Linked DNA regions of Homo sapiens: region 1 is linked to region 2. The links come from fine-mapping of genetic effects on gene expression. Tissue or cell type: whole blood. Region 2 holds a variant in brackets; the other region holds the start of a gene. All regions are shown on one strand. Distances are between the middles of the regions.

Region 1 (8,179 bases), 30 kb after region 2:
AGTAAAGGACATGGGAATAAGGTGAGGCTGGAAGGAATACAGACGGTTTAATCTTGAATTTTATTTGTCTACAGCCCAACTCTTTCAGATTTTCTTTTTTCTTTCTTTCTTTCTTTTTTTTTTTTTTTTTGAGATGGAGTCTCGCTCATGTTGCGCAGGCTGGAGTGCAATGGCATGACCTTGGCTCACTGCAGCCTCTGCCTCCCGGGTTCAAGCGATTCTCCTGCCTCAGCCTCCTAAGTAGCTGGGATTACAGGCACCCACCCCCACCATGCCTGGCTAATTTTTTTATTTTTAGTAGAGACGGGGTTTCACCATGTTGGCCAGGCTGGTCTTGAACTCCTGACCTCAGGTGATACACCCACCTTGGCCTCCCAAAGTGCTGGAATTACAGGCATGAGCCACTGCGCCTGGCCCAGATTTTCTTTCATATTCTTGTTTCCTGGATATTCTGCATGATTGATGAATGTTCCTTTTTTTTTTGAGACAGAGTCTTGCTCTGTCACCCAGGCTGGAGTGCAGTGGCGCGATCTTGGCTCACTGCAAGCTCCATCTCCCGGGTTCATGCCATTCTCCTGCCTCAGCCTCCCGAGTAGCTGGGACCACAGGTGCCTGCCACCACGCCTGGCTAATTTTTTGTATTTTTAGTAGAGACAGGGTTTCACCATGTTAGCCAGGATGGTCTTGATCTTCTGACCTTGTGATCCGCCCGCCTCGGCCTCCCAATGTGCTGGGATTACAGGCGTGAGCCACCATGCCCGGCCTACTGAATGTTCCTATTTTATAGATATAAATACATCACCTTTATGTGAATGTGTATTGTTTTGTAAACAACTTGTAAAATTGTTGAGACAATTTACTCTTAGAGGGGGGAGAAAAAAGACCTCATGTTCATCTGGTCTACCCCTTCCATTTTATAAGCTAAGGAGGAAGCCCTAGTTAGTAGAAATGACTTGCTCCAAACTCCACATGGTTTCTGGCAAAATCTAGGCTTCTTAACACTTTGCCTAGTGCTGTATGTATTTTGGGAATAGCATAACTTCTATTTCATAAGAAATGACACAGGGAGAGGGCAACTGACCCAAAGATTAGAACTCCCCTTACTTCAGCCTCTGCTCTCAGACTGTATGCTAGGAAAAAGCTGAGCAGTCGACCTCCAGGGCTGAGGAGACTGACCTGTAATGTAATTACACAGTTTAAAGCCTCTGGTGAAGAGGGTTTTGAGGAGCTGCTATGACTCAACATCTGTACTAATCTGAGGCTTATATAGAAGATAGAGTGGCCGATATTCATTTAAGAAGATGAAATGCGGCCAGGAGCGGTGGCTCGCATCTGTAATCCCAGCACTTTGGGAGGCCGAGGTGGGCAGATCACCTGAGGTCAGGAGTTTGAGACCAGCCTGGCCAACATGGCGAAACTCCGTCTCTACTAAAAATATAAAAATTAGCCGGGTGTGGTGGTGCACGCCTGTAATCCCAGCTGCTCTGGAGGCTGAGACAGGAGAATCGCTTGAACCTGGGAGGCGGAGGTTGCAGTGAGCCAAGATCATGCCACTGCACTCCAGCCTGGGCGCCAGAGCAAGAGTCTGTCTCAAAAAAACAAAAAAAAACAAAGATGAAATGCGGCTGGGCACGTTGGCTTATGCCTGTAATCTCATAACTTTGGGAGGCCGAGGTGGGTAGATCACCTGAGGTCAGGAGTTGGAGACCAGCCTGGCCAACATGGTGAAACCCCATCTCTACTAAAAATACGAAAATTAGCTGGGTGTGGTGGCGGGCACCTGTAATCCCAGCTACTTGGGGGGCTGAGGCAGGAGAATCTCTTGAACCCAGGAGGTGGAGGTTGCAGTGAGCTGAAATCGCGCCACTGTACTCCAGCCTGGGTGACAGAACGAGATTCCATCTCAAAAAACAAAAAAAACAAAAACAGAAGATGAAATGCATGAAAGGAAAGGTTAAAAATGATTCCCATGGGCCAGTTTTAGTAATACTCTCTTCACTCCTTTTGCTGCATGGTACTTGCACCCTTTGAGCTTACTGTTCTGCTTGATTGCATGTCCATGAGGCCGAGAATCTGCCTGTCTTGTTTACCACGAGATCCACAGAATCAAGCCCAAGCCTGGCATGTAGAAGATACTCAAGAAAGATTTGCCGAATAAATAAGAGATACACGAATCAAAAGCATTGCTTTTTGCCCTCAAAAAGTGTTCAACATTTGCTATGGAACATTTTAGCACCATTCCCTTGTGCTAATTACTTTCGTAACTAAAGTTAGAAGCTGATGCTCAGTGCATCTGTGTTTTAGCAAATTGAATTGAATCTGTATATCCCACTCAAAGAAATTTAATTGGAATTGCACATGAAACTGAAGCAACCCACAAATCAGCATCTTGTCTTGCTTGCCTTAAGCCCCAGAAGGTCCTGAAAGCCACTGTTCTATTGTTCATCTCCACCTACACACTTTACTGTATGCCCTTTACTCAATAACCTTCGTGGAGTGTTTCCATAGGTACTATCAAGCCACTAACGATTTCACAACTGGAGCCACTGTTGGTAAATCCAAGTATGTTGCATCAAAACAGTTTCAACCTACTTGTCTAGCTCATAGCCCACACATCTATCCAGAGACTTTAAAACTGTTGTATTTTGCCCCATACCTTCCTGGTGATGGCAGAGTAGAGATGAGAAGCAATTAGGCAGCAGTTGCTTCCCAACAGTCTCTTCCAGTTTGTTCTGCCTCTCATTTGAGTTCTGAATTAGGAGTTGCTCCTTTACAAATGGTTTTAAAGTCAAACAATTACTTGTCCATTACAATCACCTGTCAATTGCTAGAAAAATTAGACTACTGAGGAGGTAGATGGTACAAACACAGGCAGAGGATACAGACATTAGTAAGAGACAAGGAGGCGACTGCACTACAGCAATGTCCTAGGACAAATTCTAACCCTGCCATCTAACCCTGTTTAGAGGCAAATCTAACCCTGCCATAAGTAGAGAGGACAGGGTGGTGGCAGAGGTGGGAAGAGTGTTGTTTTGCCCTTACTTTAAGTGAACCTGGACATGTCCTGACCTTTGCAAACACCACCCCTCCCCCGTAGTTCCCACTTACCTCTGCAGTGGGCTGTGTCCAAGCTGCTGAGGTCCTTGCACAGGTCAAATCTAAGTTCTCTTCCCTTTCAGCCCCCGCTTTGGTGGCTGTTGCTGCTGCGGCTCTGCTGCAGGCTAACCTTGTTTTTGCTCGGGTGGGAGGCTGGCCATGGTGATCTCATTACAGAGCTGCGTACTGGCTCGGACCAGGCACGTGATGAAAAAAGTTTGGGTCTGTGTGGGCTGGAAACAAAACACCCTTCTTTCCAGAGGGCATGTCCTTAAAGCGGAAAGGGAATCTAAGCTCAAGCAGGAACTTGAAAAACGTGCATTTGGCCAAACTCTGGGCTTCCCTCCCCCTGCCCCCTTTTTTTCTTTTAAAAAATTTTCTCCATCATCTGCAACTTAAGAAAATGTCGCTGTCCCATAGGAGGAGGCAGATTCAAGAAAAGATGTGGGTGTCAGATAATGGCAGGTAGTACAAGTTGATAAAAAGGTGACAGAGACCAGAGGATCTCATTTTCTTTTTTTTCATTGCTTCTTTTCCTGTGGAGGGCAGGCAAGGGAGGAGAGATGCATCAGCTATTTCTAGTGAGTCTAGATGCAGGAAAGGCATGCCTGTGGAGGGTAAATTTGCACTGTGATTGAAATAGGGGAACTTAGGATACAGGACCCATGACATGAAGTGAGGAGCACTTTGGAAAAAGAGCTGCTTTTAAATTTCTGAAAACTTTTTAAATAAGCAAATGTGCAAATGATATAAAATACAATAGGGTCAAAAGAATGTACAATGAAAAGTCTTTTTTTAATTTCTCCTCAGTCCCCTTTTTTTCCTCCCAAGAGACAACCTCTGTGACCAGATTTTTGTATATCCTTCCAGAGCTTACCTCTGTAAATAGAAACATGTGTAGGCCTTGTGCTTCTCCTTTAGCAACAGCACCATAGTATGTTTGTTGTGCACCTTGCTTTTTCCACTTAACAATCAAACATGGAGATTGGCTAGGCATGGTGGTGCTCACCTGTAGTCCCAACTATTTGGGAGGCTGAGGTTGGAGGATCACTTGAGCCCAGGTATTTGAGACCAGCCTGGGCAGCACAGGAAGACTCCTTTCTAAAATAAACAAAACTCAGAAACTTGGCTGGGCACGGCGGCTCACATGTATAATCTCAGCACTTTGGAAGACCAAGACGGGAGGATCACTTGAGGCCAGGAGTTCAAGACCAGCCTGGGCAATGTAGCAAAACCCCATTTCTACTACATATACAAAAAATTAGTAGAGCTTACTGGCACATGTCTGTTATCCCAGCTACTGGGGAGGCTGAGGTGGGAGGATGGCTTGAGCCCAGGAGTTGGAGGCTGCAGTGAGCTATGATTGTGCCCTGCACTCCAACCTGAGTGACAGAGTGGGACCCTGTCTCTAAAAAACAAAACAAAATAAAAAATGCCGGGTGCAGTGGCTCATGCCTGTAATCTCAGCAATCTTTGGAAGGCTGAGGCAGGAGGATTTCTTTTTTTTATTTTTTGAGATGGAGTCTTGCTCTGTCACCCAGGCTGGAGTGCAATGGCATGATCACAGCTAACTGCAACCTCCGCCTCCTGGGTTCAAGCGATTCTTCTGCCTCAGCCTCCCGAGTAGCTGGGACTACAGGTGTGCGCTGCCAGGCCCGGCTAATTTTTGTATTTTTTTTTTTTAGTAGAGATGAGGTTTCACCATATTGGCCAGGCTGGTCTTAAACTCCTGACCTCATAATCTGCCCACCTCAGCCTCCCAAAGTGCTGGGATTACAGGCATGAGCCACCACCGTGCCTGGCCTGGCAGGAGAATTTCTTAAGCCCAGGAGTTAGAGACCAGCCTGGGCAACATAATGAGGCCCTGTCTCTAAAATAAATAAAACTGTCAACAACAAAACATGGAGACTGCTCCATATAGTACCCTTAAGAGCTGCCATGTTCTGTTTAATGGCTGCCTCCCGTCCCATTGTATAGATGTGTCATACTTTATTTGGCCAATAAAGGACCATGTCTTCCTCATTTTCCTTGCCTAATTCGTTGCACAAAGCAAGGGCTCAGTAAACATTCAATGCTTGCTCACAAATTAATTACATTTTGTACAACTTGTTCATGTTTTTCCTCATCTCTCCTTTCAGAGATACTAATTTTTTTCAATATTCCAGATATTGCAGAATGTCTATATTTTCCAGCTGACCAAGTCTATCTTGTGCACTGAACAAACCTGTGCTACCAGACTTCCAAGACTCACTTTAGTTTGGCTCCTCTCAGATGATATTATTTCCTATTCCCTCCTACTTTCTATTTTTTAATTTTTTTATTTTTATTTTTGAGATGGAGTCTCATTCTGTTGCCCAGGCTAGAGTGTAGTAGCACAATCTCGGCTCACTGCAACCTCCGCCTCCTGGGTTTAAGCGATTCTCCTGCCTCTAAGCGATTCTCCTGCCTCAGCCTCCAGAGTGGCTTGGACTACAACAGGCGCCTGCTACCACGCCTGGCTAATTTTTTTTTTTTTTTTTTTTTTTTGTATTTTTAGAAGACTCAGGGTTTCACCATGTTGGCCAGGCTGGTCTCAAACTCTGACCTCAGGTGAGAGTTCTGAGGTTACAGGCATGAACCACTGCACCTGGCCTATTTTTAAAAATTTCTTGGCCGGGCGCAGTGGCTCACGCCTGTAATCCTAGCACTTTGAGAGGCCGAGGCGGGTGGATCACGAGGTCAGGAGATCGAGACCATCCTGGCTAACACGGTGAAACCCGTCTCTACTAAAAGTACAAAAATTAGCCAGGCGTGGTGGCGGGCGCCTGTAGTCCCAGCTACTCAGGAGGCTGAGGCAGGAGAATCGCTTGAACCCAGGAGGCAGAGGTTGCAGTGAGCCGAGATTGCGCCACTGCACTCCAGCCTGGGCGACCGACAGGGCGAGACTCCACCTCAAAAAAAAAAAAAAAATTTCTTTAGACACAGGGTTTCACTCTGTCACCCAGGCTGGAGTGCAGTGGCTCAACTATGGCTCACTGCAGTCTCAACCTTCTGGCCTCAAGTGATCCTCCCACCTCAGCCTCCCAAGCAGTTGGACTACAGGCACACACCACCATGCCCCACTAATTAAAAAAAAACATTTTTGGAGAGACAGAGTCTGGCTATGTTGCCCAGGCTGGTCTTGAACTCCTGACTCAAGCAATCCTCCTGCCTCAGTCTCCCAAATTGTTGGATTACAGGTATGATTCACTGTGCCTGGCCTCCTTCCTACTTTCTAATGCCAAGCATCACTGTCATGTGCAAACATTTATTGTTCACTTACTATGATGTACAGAAACTTTTTTTCCTATTTCCTATTGTCTCCATGTCCATATCTTTGCTTACGCTAATCCTCTCACCTGGAATTTCCTTCCTGTTCCTGTCAAGTATTGTGCCTCCAGTTCTTTTCTCTCTCTCTCTCTCTCTTTTTTTTTAAGAGATGGGGTGTTGCTATGTTGTCCAACCTTGTCCCAAAATCTTGGCCTCAAGTGATCCTCCTGCCTCAGCCTCCCAAAGTGCTTTAGCCTCCCAAAGTGCTAAGATTACAGGTGTGAGCCATTGTGCCCGGCCTAATTCTTTTCTTCTTGAACTTTTGTAGTTTAAGTGGTCAACACTCCCTGGAGTAGCAGGTACTTTTTTTCCTACAATCATTTCATATAGGGTCTTTATGTATTTCCATGGCAGTAATAACTCTGGCACTAATAACACTGGTCTTCAGTAAATAGTTGATTGCTGAGCAAGCCTTATAGAGAAGAGCATCTGTCTAGTGAGAAGCTCTCCAGCCTTCCTGGGTTTTCTCTCCATCCTATCTTTTTTTCTTTTTTTTTGTTTGAAATGGAGTCTGGCTCTGTTGCCCAGGCTGGAGTGCAATGGCATGATCTTGGTCCATTGCAAACTCCACCTCCCAGGTTCAAGCGACTGTCTTGCCTCAGCCTCCTTAGTAGCTAGGATTACAGGCACCTGCCATCATGCCCGGCTAATTTTTGTATTTTTAGTAAAGACGGGGTTTCACCTTGTTGGCCAGGGTGGTTTTGAACTCCTGACCTCAGGTGATCCACCTTCCTCGGCCTCCCAAAGTGCTGGGATTACAGGCGTGAGCCACCACGCCCAGCCAGCTGTGTGGTTCTTAAGGGGTCCCATTCATTTTATAACGAGTGTTTCTCAATTTTGTTTATTTATTAATTTTTTTGAGATGGAGTCTCTCTCTGTCGCCAGGTTGGAGTGCGGTGGCGTGATCTTGGCTTACTGCAACCTCTACCTCCCGGGTTCAAGCAATTCTCCTGCCTCGGCCTCCCGAGTAGCTGGGATTACAGGCGTGTGCCACCACACCCAGCTAATCCAGGGGTTTCACCATGTTGGCCAGCATGGTCTCGATCTTCTGACCTCGTGATCTGCCCGCCTTGGCCTCCCAAAGTGCTGGGATTACAGGCGTGAGCCACCGCGCCTGGCCTTCTCAATTTTCTTAAACTTATACTCTCCTGCTGGGCGTGGTGGCTCAGGCCTGTAATCCCAGCACTTTGGGAGGCCAAGGCGGGCAGATCACCTGAGGTCAGCAGTTCGAGACCAGCCTGACCAACATGGAGAAACTGTCTCTATTAAAAATACAAAATCAGTCGGGTGTGGTGGTGCATGCCCGTAATCCCAGCTACTCGGAGGCTGAGGCAGGAGAATCGCTTGAACCCAGGAGGCAGAGGTTGCGGTGAGCCGAGATCGCGATATTGCACTCCAGCCTGGGCAACAAGAGCGATACTCCGTCTCAAAAAAAATGAAAAATAACAACAACAACAACAACAAAAAACAAAAACGTATACCCTCCCAAATGAGATTTGTTCGAACCTGACTTTCTATAGTTTGCAGCTCAAAAACAATAGGGGCCAGGAGCAGCGGCATGCACCTGTAATCCCAGGCACTCAGGAGGCTGAGTGAGGAGGATTACTTGAGGCTGGGTGCCCAGGGATTCAAGACCAGCCTGGATAACGTGGCAAGACCCTCATCTCAAAAAGCAATAGAGTTTTCTTCTCAAATATGAAATGATGTAACTGAATATATTCTTTTCCAACTACCC
Region 2 (8,179 bases):
GGCTGGTCTTCCATCTAGGTTACTGCTATTGGGTGTGAAGGATGGGTTTCTGGTAGAGTTCCCCCAGATCCGGAGGAACCCTGCACTCAATGTGCACATGAAACCTCGGCAGGGGTTCTGCCATTGGGCTTCGAGGAGTCTGCCTAAGGCAGGGGCTTCTACAAGCCTTGAGTTCATGTCCACCCTGTGTCTTAAGTGAGACGTGACAGTCATAGCCAGTGCCACAAAACAGCAGTCCAGCATAATGCCAGGATTTCAGCGCACTTGTCAGCTTCCAGGTTTTCCATCCCCTGGCTGTGGCCTGCATTGTGTTATGAGACAGCCAAGAAGAAAAACGATGAGGCTTCTTATGGAGGGTTGCCACAACCCCTCTATGAACAGACTTTTCCACAGGGGGGTGAAGGAGGAATGATCCAGCACCATGTGGACTTACGGAATCCTGGTCAGCCCCGAACCCTGAGATGTGATGCTGGGGAGGGATGGAACAAAGAGTCCCCCATTCCCCGTATAAATTACAAAACTAAAAATGGGGCATGGCCTTATTTACGTGTTCATCTGACAACTGTCTCCCATACCTGGCTTGGGTAAATGGTTTTTCCAGAGAGTGCTTTTTCACTGTTCTTGAGGTTGGCAGGTACTTCAGTACCACCAGTGACCTCCACAGGCCAAAGGAAAGTTTAGGAGATAGTGTCCAGGGCTGATGCAGACGGATTGGTACTTTGAAAACAGAAAGATGAATTAATTGAAACTTACTTTCACAAATTATCGTTAGGAATGCTCACAGCAGCTTAATTTCACAGCCTGAGCTTCCAAATGCTATGTCTGAAGTATTAGAAGTCTTGTAGTAGACACCTCCCTTCAAAAAAAAATTATCCACTGGAATTCATGAAGACCAGTTTATTTTACATGCTTGCTTTCACATTCTTTACTGGGAATTTAAGGCCTTTTTTCAGCCTTAACTTGTATACCAACCTCAAGGATTTTGTTTGATACAGAAAAGGATAGGGCTGGGCCCTTCTGCCAAGGACTGATAACCTGCCTGCCAAAAGGAAGAGGGAATGAAAGCCTTTTGTCCTTCTAGGCCCCTTACAGTACCTCAAAATCTAAAGGCCTTAAAGGGGAAAAAAACCGTATCTGTTCTTTCTCCTTATCTCCTACCCTTCTCTTTAAGCATATTGAAGATGGACTTTTTTCCAAATGTTTATTTGTAGGAAGAGGTGATGAGTGCAGGCCAGCAGCTGAGAACTTACAGCTTTGATGCACCAGGAACTGTATTCAAGCTGAGGGCAAAAGCCTCCTAGGGAGGGAGCCAGGTCCACCAAGGCCAGAGACAGACAGGCGAGACTGTGGAAGGCCAGGGAGATGCTGCCTGGTAAGTGCTCAGCTGGCCTACTGGGCAAGTCCTCTGGGGTTCTAGAGCTGATAGGAAGAAGGAGTCCATTTTGATAGTCCTGCCTGGAGACTTGGACCTAGCTGATACTAAGGTATTTTATAAAGCTACAGTGGATGTTTTTCTTAAGAGAACTGAAAGTTGGAAAAGGCACAAGTATATATAAGAATTTAGTAAAATGATAATGGTGGTCTTTCAAATCAAAGAGTGATCTTTAAATTGTTCTTGGGAACCACAGGGTTCCTGGCCATGTCTGGCGGCTGAGAGGAGGCCAGGATGGGGACTTCAACCCAAGCAGCTGTGGTTTTGCCTTTGATAAGGTTCCTGGTAAAAATCATCTTGAATAAATGTTGCTGAGAAACTGGTAAAGCATTCGGGGGAGAAAGGATTTTGCTCTTTGCTCTGCCATGTTTTTCCGGGCTCTTTCTTCGGGGAGAAAGAGGGCTCTAACCTTTGGTCCTCATTCAGATAGGCTAATTAGGGGTCTCGGGTGTCCCCAAAGGGCAGCAACTTTGACCCCTCCCCTTGTGGGTAAAAGGGCTTTTCACAGTTTCCCAGCAGTTGGTTTTTGGTTTCCACATAAGGCTAAAGGTGTTAAAGTTTGGTCTGCACCTCGTTGGTTTTAATCCAGGGAGGAGCTCCTGGATTTCTTTTTCTCCCCCACAGAGGGAAACCTTTTGTTTGCGGTGGGCCAGAGTTAAAACGGGGCCTTTACCACTCACTCAGAGTGTTTGGTGTGTGTATGTTTGTGTGTGTGTTGGGTGAAGTGGCGACTGGCATCTGGTATGTCATGAATTGAGACCTATAATGATTTGCCAGGGTGTCTTGGCTCTGGCCTGAGTCGGGTATGTGAAAGCCTTTTGGGGCAGGAAGGGGCAAAGTGATACCTGGCCGTCCCACCCTCTGGTCCCAGAAGGAGCTCTCGCTGGAGCCAGGCAGCCTCCAGTCCCCCTCCTTTCAGCCTTGTCATTCTCTGCATCCTGCCCAGGCCACAAAGGAGTTATCTGGGGCTGAACCCCTCTCCTTCCACAGCAGAGGACCAGGGGTCTCCTCCCTCTGACCAGCCTCCAGTCTGGGGAGCTGTGTTTTCCTTTTTCTTAAGCTAACTCCTGATCCCATTGAGGGACATCAAGGGCAGTAGTTTGAAGAAAGCCTCATCCTTGGCCCTGCTTTTCCGGGAAGCCGACCTTCCCTCTACCCTGGTGGTGCCATCATTAGGGCGTGTGGCCGAAGGAGGCAAATTGTTAGGTGCAATCAGGAAGCCGTGTCTGCATCCCATGGCTGAGGGACAGCCAGGATGACACTTAGGCTGTCTCTCACTCCATCCTCTTTGGGGAGTCTGGGATGCTCTCAGAGAGCGGGGTGAAGCCCAGCAGGAGGACATGTCTCTCGTAGGCCTTGGTCTGCTTGAACATGGTGTCAGTCCCATGGAGGTGGTCCAGCACACCCAGCACCCCATAGCACTGGTTGAACCTAGAAGAGAGAGGACGGCACTGCAGTGCCCATGCTGGAGGCTTCCGTGCAGATCCCATTTCATTTGTGCCAGCCTCACACATTTCTCAGCCCTCCTACCCCACACCTGTCACCACCATCCTGACCATCTGCATCAGAATAAGCTGGGGAGTTGCTACCAATGCATCTCCCGGGGGCCACTCCAAACCTGCAATTTGCCGTATCTGGAGTCCTCCTTTGAAAAGCTTGCT[G/A]TGTGATTGATGCCCACAGTCTGAGAATCTCTAGCAGAACTAGGCTTCTTCAGGTATGAGATCACCAGCATCAGAATCCCCTGGAACACTTAACTAAAATGCAGGTTTCCAGGCCCTGCTCCCCCAGATACCTTAGTTCAGCATATTTGGAGTGGAATTCAAGAGCCTATATTTTAAACAAGCATCTCAGGTGATTCTGGTATAGGAGGTTTGTAGACTACACTTGAAAAAGTCTGGGGCTTTCAGAGATACATGACTTCCTTGTGATTGCCTGCAGGAGTTTTATGCATATATGTACTTTTCTAAAGAGAATGTCCAGAGCTTATTCAAAGGGCCCAGAGTCCAAATAAAGGTTTAAAACCCCCAGTTGGAGGAGGACCCAATTTCAGAAGGAAAAGAGTAAGGTCATCCCAGTGTGGTTATTTTCCCAGCCATCAGACCTCTTCCCCAACTAGCACTCACATGTAAACTGAGATACCAGTGCCTGCTATCAGAAGCTTAAGGAGGGAGGGTGATGGTTGTTGCCTAGGGACCCATTGTGGGGAGAAGGTCCTTACTTGAGATGGTGGTAGTCGTGGAATTCAGGCGAAGGCAGGAAGGGAAGGTGGTAGCCACAGTGGGAGATGGTGGTGATGATGAGGGCCAAGGAAAACCACATGGTGATGGAGGACAAGTGGGAGCCCATTACTAATGGGCCCACTATCACCGGTAGCATGTTGGAGACCTGCAAGAGGAGGGATGATTGAAGGCAGGGTCCAGGGAGATGAAGGGACTTAGTTGGGTATACACTTAGTCCCAAGGTGGTACCAGAGGCAAACTTCCTTGACCCAGATCTGGAGAAGGTGAGAGTTTCGGGACTTTGATTTGTTGAAGGCATTCACCTTTGTAACTTGGGACAAATTACGCAGTTTGAGCCTCAACTTTCTTGTTAGCAAAATTAAGATTAAAAAGGTTGTTGGAGGAGCCAGGTGTGGTGATTCATGCCTGTAATCCCAGCAATTTGGGAGACAGAGGTGGGAGGATTGCTTGAGGCCAGGGGTTCCAGCCAGTCTGGGCAAAATAGCAGGATCCCGACTCTACAAAAAAATTTAAAAATTAGCCAGATGTGGCCAGGTGCGATGGCTCACTCCTATAATCCCAACACTTTGGGAGGCCAAGGCGGGTAGATCACGAGGTCAGGAGTTTGAGACCAGCCTGACCAACATGGTGAAAACCTGTCCTACTAAAAATACAAAAATCAGCCAGGCGTGGTGGCACACGCCTGTAATCCCAGCTACTCAGGAGGCTGAGACAGGAGAATGGCTTGAACCCGGGAGGCGGGAGATTGCAGTGAGCCGAGATCATGCCATTGCACTCCAGCCAAGATGACACAGTGAGACTCCAGATTTGGTGGTGCACACGTGTGGTCTCAGCTATTTGGAAGTGCACACGTGTGGTCTCAGCTATTTGGAAGACTGAAGCTAGAGGATCACATGAGCCCAGGGGTTGGAGGCTGCAGTGAGCTATGATCACACCACTGCACTCCAACCTGGGTGACAGAGCAAGACCCTGTCTCAAAAAGAAAAAAAGAAAGTTGTTGGGATGATTAAATGAGACAACTGTGTTAGCACTTAACATAGCCTGGCATATGGAAGGCTGACAATAAATGGTAGCTATTTTTAAATGGGAAGAAAAAGGGCCGGTGTGGTCTAAGTTCTCTGCAGGAGACCTTCAGGAAGGTGGTTGGGGCCATCTGCCCTTTGCTCTGGGGAGCATAGAGCTCTACTCACTGCATGCTCTATAGGGTGGGCATAGAGAGAGATCACGCCAATGGGAGCTGTCCACTCATGGTGTTTCTTGTGGATTTTCTTGTAGAATGTTGGGTGGTGAAGGAGCCTGGGGAAATAGTTAATAGTTAATAACCTGCTGATTCCTCTTTCTCCCTCCCCGACCAGACCATGAGAAACCAAAAATAGGAACTAGGGGTTACATCCATGGAGCAAAGTTAACAACACCAAGACCTGCCTTCAAATTTCAACCCCAGCCCTTATACTGCATAGTTTGGGAGTGGGTTGCTTTGCTTCTCTATGCCAGTTGTATTCGCTGTAAAATGGGATGCTGCCCAGAAAGGACTGAATAAGGAAATGAATGGGAAACTGCCCTGGCTCCCACACAATCAGAGAGGCCTTTTCTCTTTTGGACATTCATTCCTCAGTTGTCCCAAGTTGTCAGTTATGAGACAACTAGTGGTCTCCCTGTTAACTATTTAATGGGACACTTGAGGCCAGGGAGTATTTTACTGGCCTACACTCAATTCAGAAGCCTGTTCCCTTTTATTTTTTTTCTTTGAGACAAGGTCTTGCTCTTTCGCCCAGGCTGGAGTGCAGTGGTGTGATCACAGCTCACTATAGCCTTGACCTCCCGGGCTCATGTGATCCTCCCACCTCAATCTCCCAAGTAGCTGGGACTACAAGTACACACCACCATGCCTGGCTAATTTTTTAAATTTTTTTGTAGAGACGGGGTCTCCTGACATTCCCCAGGCTAGTCTCAAACTCCTGGGCTCAAGTGATCCGCCCACCTCAGCCTCCCAAATTGCCAGGATTACAAGCGTGAGTCACTGCACCTGGCCTCAGTTTCCTTGTTGATCAGTGAGCCCTAGACAGGATGAGGAGCCAGCTGTGCCTCAGGCAGGGCCTGCTCACCGGTGTGAATAGTAGAACAAGACTTCCTCGATCAGCGTGAAGATGGCCAGCTCCAGGAGGAACCAGTGGAAGGTGGGTAGCTCACGGCGGCAGGGGTCTCTCCACCATTTGAGGAAGGGATAGAGGAAGACCACCATGGGGAAAGATATCATGCACTGGTTGAAAAGAACTGTGCGGATAGACTGGCGCAGTTTCACAGGATCCACCTGCCCAAGGGAAGGGAGGAGGGAGATGGATAAGAGTGTGAGAAGTAGGCTCCACCGTGACCTGCTTACAGGAGGCCCTCACTCTGGTTGGATTCTGGGAGAGATGTCGGGGGACAGCCAGTAGCTCCTGACTGCCACCCAGCTCTGGGCCTGGAAACGTTGCAGAATAAGGCCCTGGCTGCTAGGCAGGTGAGTAATACCCCTGTCCTTGGAAACTTCAGCAGCCTTCAGTCTGTGTCGGAACCTGCCTTCTTCCTGGTTCTGCACATTATCACCACTGCCCTCCCCATTTCTCTGGCCAGGCCCCATGTATTTACAGGTAACTTGGGTAGCCTCCATGGTGCTTGGAGAAGGCTGTGACTTTCTGAGTGATACCCCATTTCAGCCATTTAGCCCCTCTTCATCAGAGAACCTTGTTCATGATTGGATGCAGAGATCAAGATCATCTGCCTCCTCAAGTGGTCCAGCCTCCCTGCAGTAGGCCCAGAGCAAAGAAGCAGGTAAGCCAAGGAACTGCTTATCCAGCTTCTTGACCAACTTGCTGGTTTTCACAGTGATGCTGTGAAGATGGGGGCCTGCCCAAGCATTTCCACCAGGGTCCACTGTACAGAGCTGGTCCCAAGTGTCCAAAGTCCATTTGGCCTCAATACTGCAGCCAATATTTCCCCCAGAATCAGCAACCCTTTGACCCTTCCCTTTGTCAGAGCACTGGGGCTCCAGGCAACAGTCCTGTGACCATAGATTACTTCCTGGATCCTGATGAACTTGTTTGGTTAGAAGGGATTTCTCCAAGTTCCCTCTGTGAGCTGGAGGGATTTCTGCCCCAAAGCGCGACAGGTTCAGAATGGTCCCCAGCTTGAGGCCTGCCTCTTCCTCCAGCCTTTCCAGGCACTGCATGCATTAACTGATTTCAGAATTCACTCTTTGTTTACTTCCATCCCATTGCGAGGCCAGGTCTCGCCAGCCTGTTGTGAGAGGACATGTTAGGTGAGGCCATTACACCTTCTGGAAACCTTGACCAAGAGGCGGGGTATCACATCTATCTATTCATTTATTTATTTAACTGATATTTATTGAGTACCCACTATGTAGCACTCAGTGTACTGGGTGTTGAAAATAAAGCATGAGCAAAACAAAGATTCCTGCCCCCATGGAATTTATGTTCCAGTGAGAAAGGTAGACTAGACACAACAAATATAAAAACATATATATCAGGCTGGGCACGGTGGCTCACACCTGTAATCCCAGCACTTTGGGAGGTGGAGGTGGGAGGATCACTTGAGGCCAGGAATTTGAGAGCAGCCTTGGCAACATCACGAAACCCCATCTAATTTTTTTTAAAAAGCTGGATGTGGTGGTGTGCACCTGTAGTCCCAGCTATTCAGAAGCCTGGGGTGGAAGGATCATGTGAGTCCAGGAGTTTAAGGCACACCAGCCTGCGTGAGAGAGTGAGACCCAATCTTGTTAAAAAAAAAAAAAAAAAAAAAAAGGGCCAGTCGCTGTGGCTTACGCCTGTAATCCCAGCACTTTGGGAAGCCAAGGTGGGCAGGTTATGAGGTCAGGAGATTGAGACCATCCTGGCTAACATGGTGAAACCTCGTCTCTACGAAAAATACAAAAACTTAGCTAGGCGTGGTGGCATGCACTTGTAGTCCCAGCTACTCGGGAGGCTGAGGCAGGAGAATCACTTGAATCCGGGAGGCGGAGGTTGTAGTGAGCCACCGAGATCATGCCACTGCACTCTAGCCTCGGTGACAGAGCAAGACTCCATCAAAAAAAAAGGCAGGCCGGTGCTGTGGCTCATGCCTGTAATCCCAGCACTTTGGGAGGCCAAGGCAGGCAGATCACGAGGTCAGGAGTTTGAGACCAGCCTGACCAATACGGTGAAACCCTGTCTCTACTAAAAATACAAAAATTAGCCAGGCATGGTAGTGTGCGCCTGTAATCCCAGCTACTCAGGAGGCTGAGGCAGGAGAATCACTTGAACCCGGGAGGTTGCAGTGAGCCGAGATTGCTCCATTGCACTCCAGCCTGGGTGACAGAGTGAGACTCCGTCTCAAAAAAAAAAAAAAAAAAGCAGTAATATAGACAAGAGAAGATGGTGAATTAGACCAGGGTAATAGTGATGGAAGTGGTGAGAAGTGGTAAGAAGTGACTGGATTCTGAATTTATTTCAGAAATAGAGTTAATAGGGTT

The links. PIP is the estimated chance that this variant, and not a neighbour inherited with it, causes the effect.
Region 1: FAXDC2 starts here. The variant in region 2 is fine-mapped to the expression of FAXDC2 in whole blood (TOPMed, PIP above 0.99).

What each region holds. Positions count from the first base shown.
Region 1 is chr5:154,847,375-154,855,553 of GRCh38, forward strand. FAXDC2 (fatty acid hydroxylase domain containing 2) reads right to left here and starts at 3,229. Exons shown (of 9, transcript NM_032385.5): 1 at 3,109-3,229.
Region 2 is chr5:154,817,610-154,825,788 of GRCh38, forward strand. FAXDC2 (fatty acid hydroxylase domain containing 2) reads right to left here. Exons shown (of 9, transcript NM_032385.5): 6 at 5,778-5,983; 7 at 4,863-4,968; 8 at 3,651-3,817; 9 at 883-2,863. The coding sequence ends at 2,707. Among named protein-coding and RNA genes, the nearest start is that of MIR378H, 7.8 kb to the right of the region's middle. The variant G/A (reference allele first, on the strand shown) is at 3,094.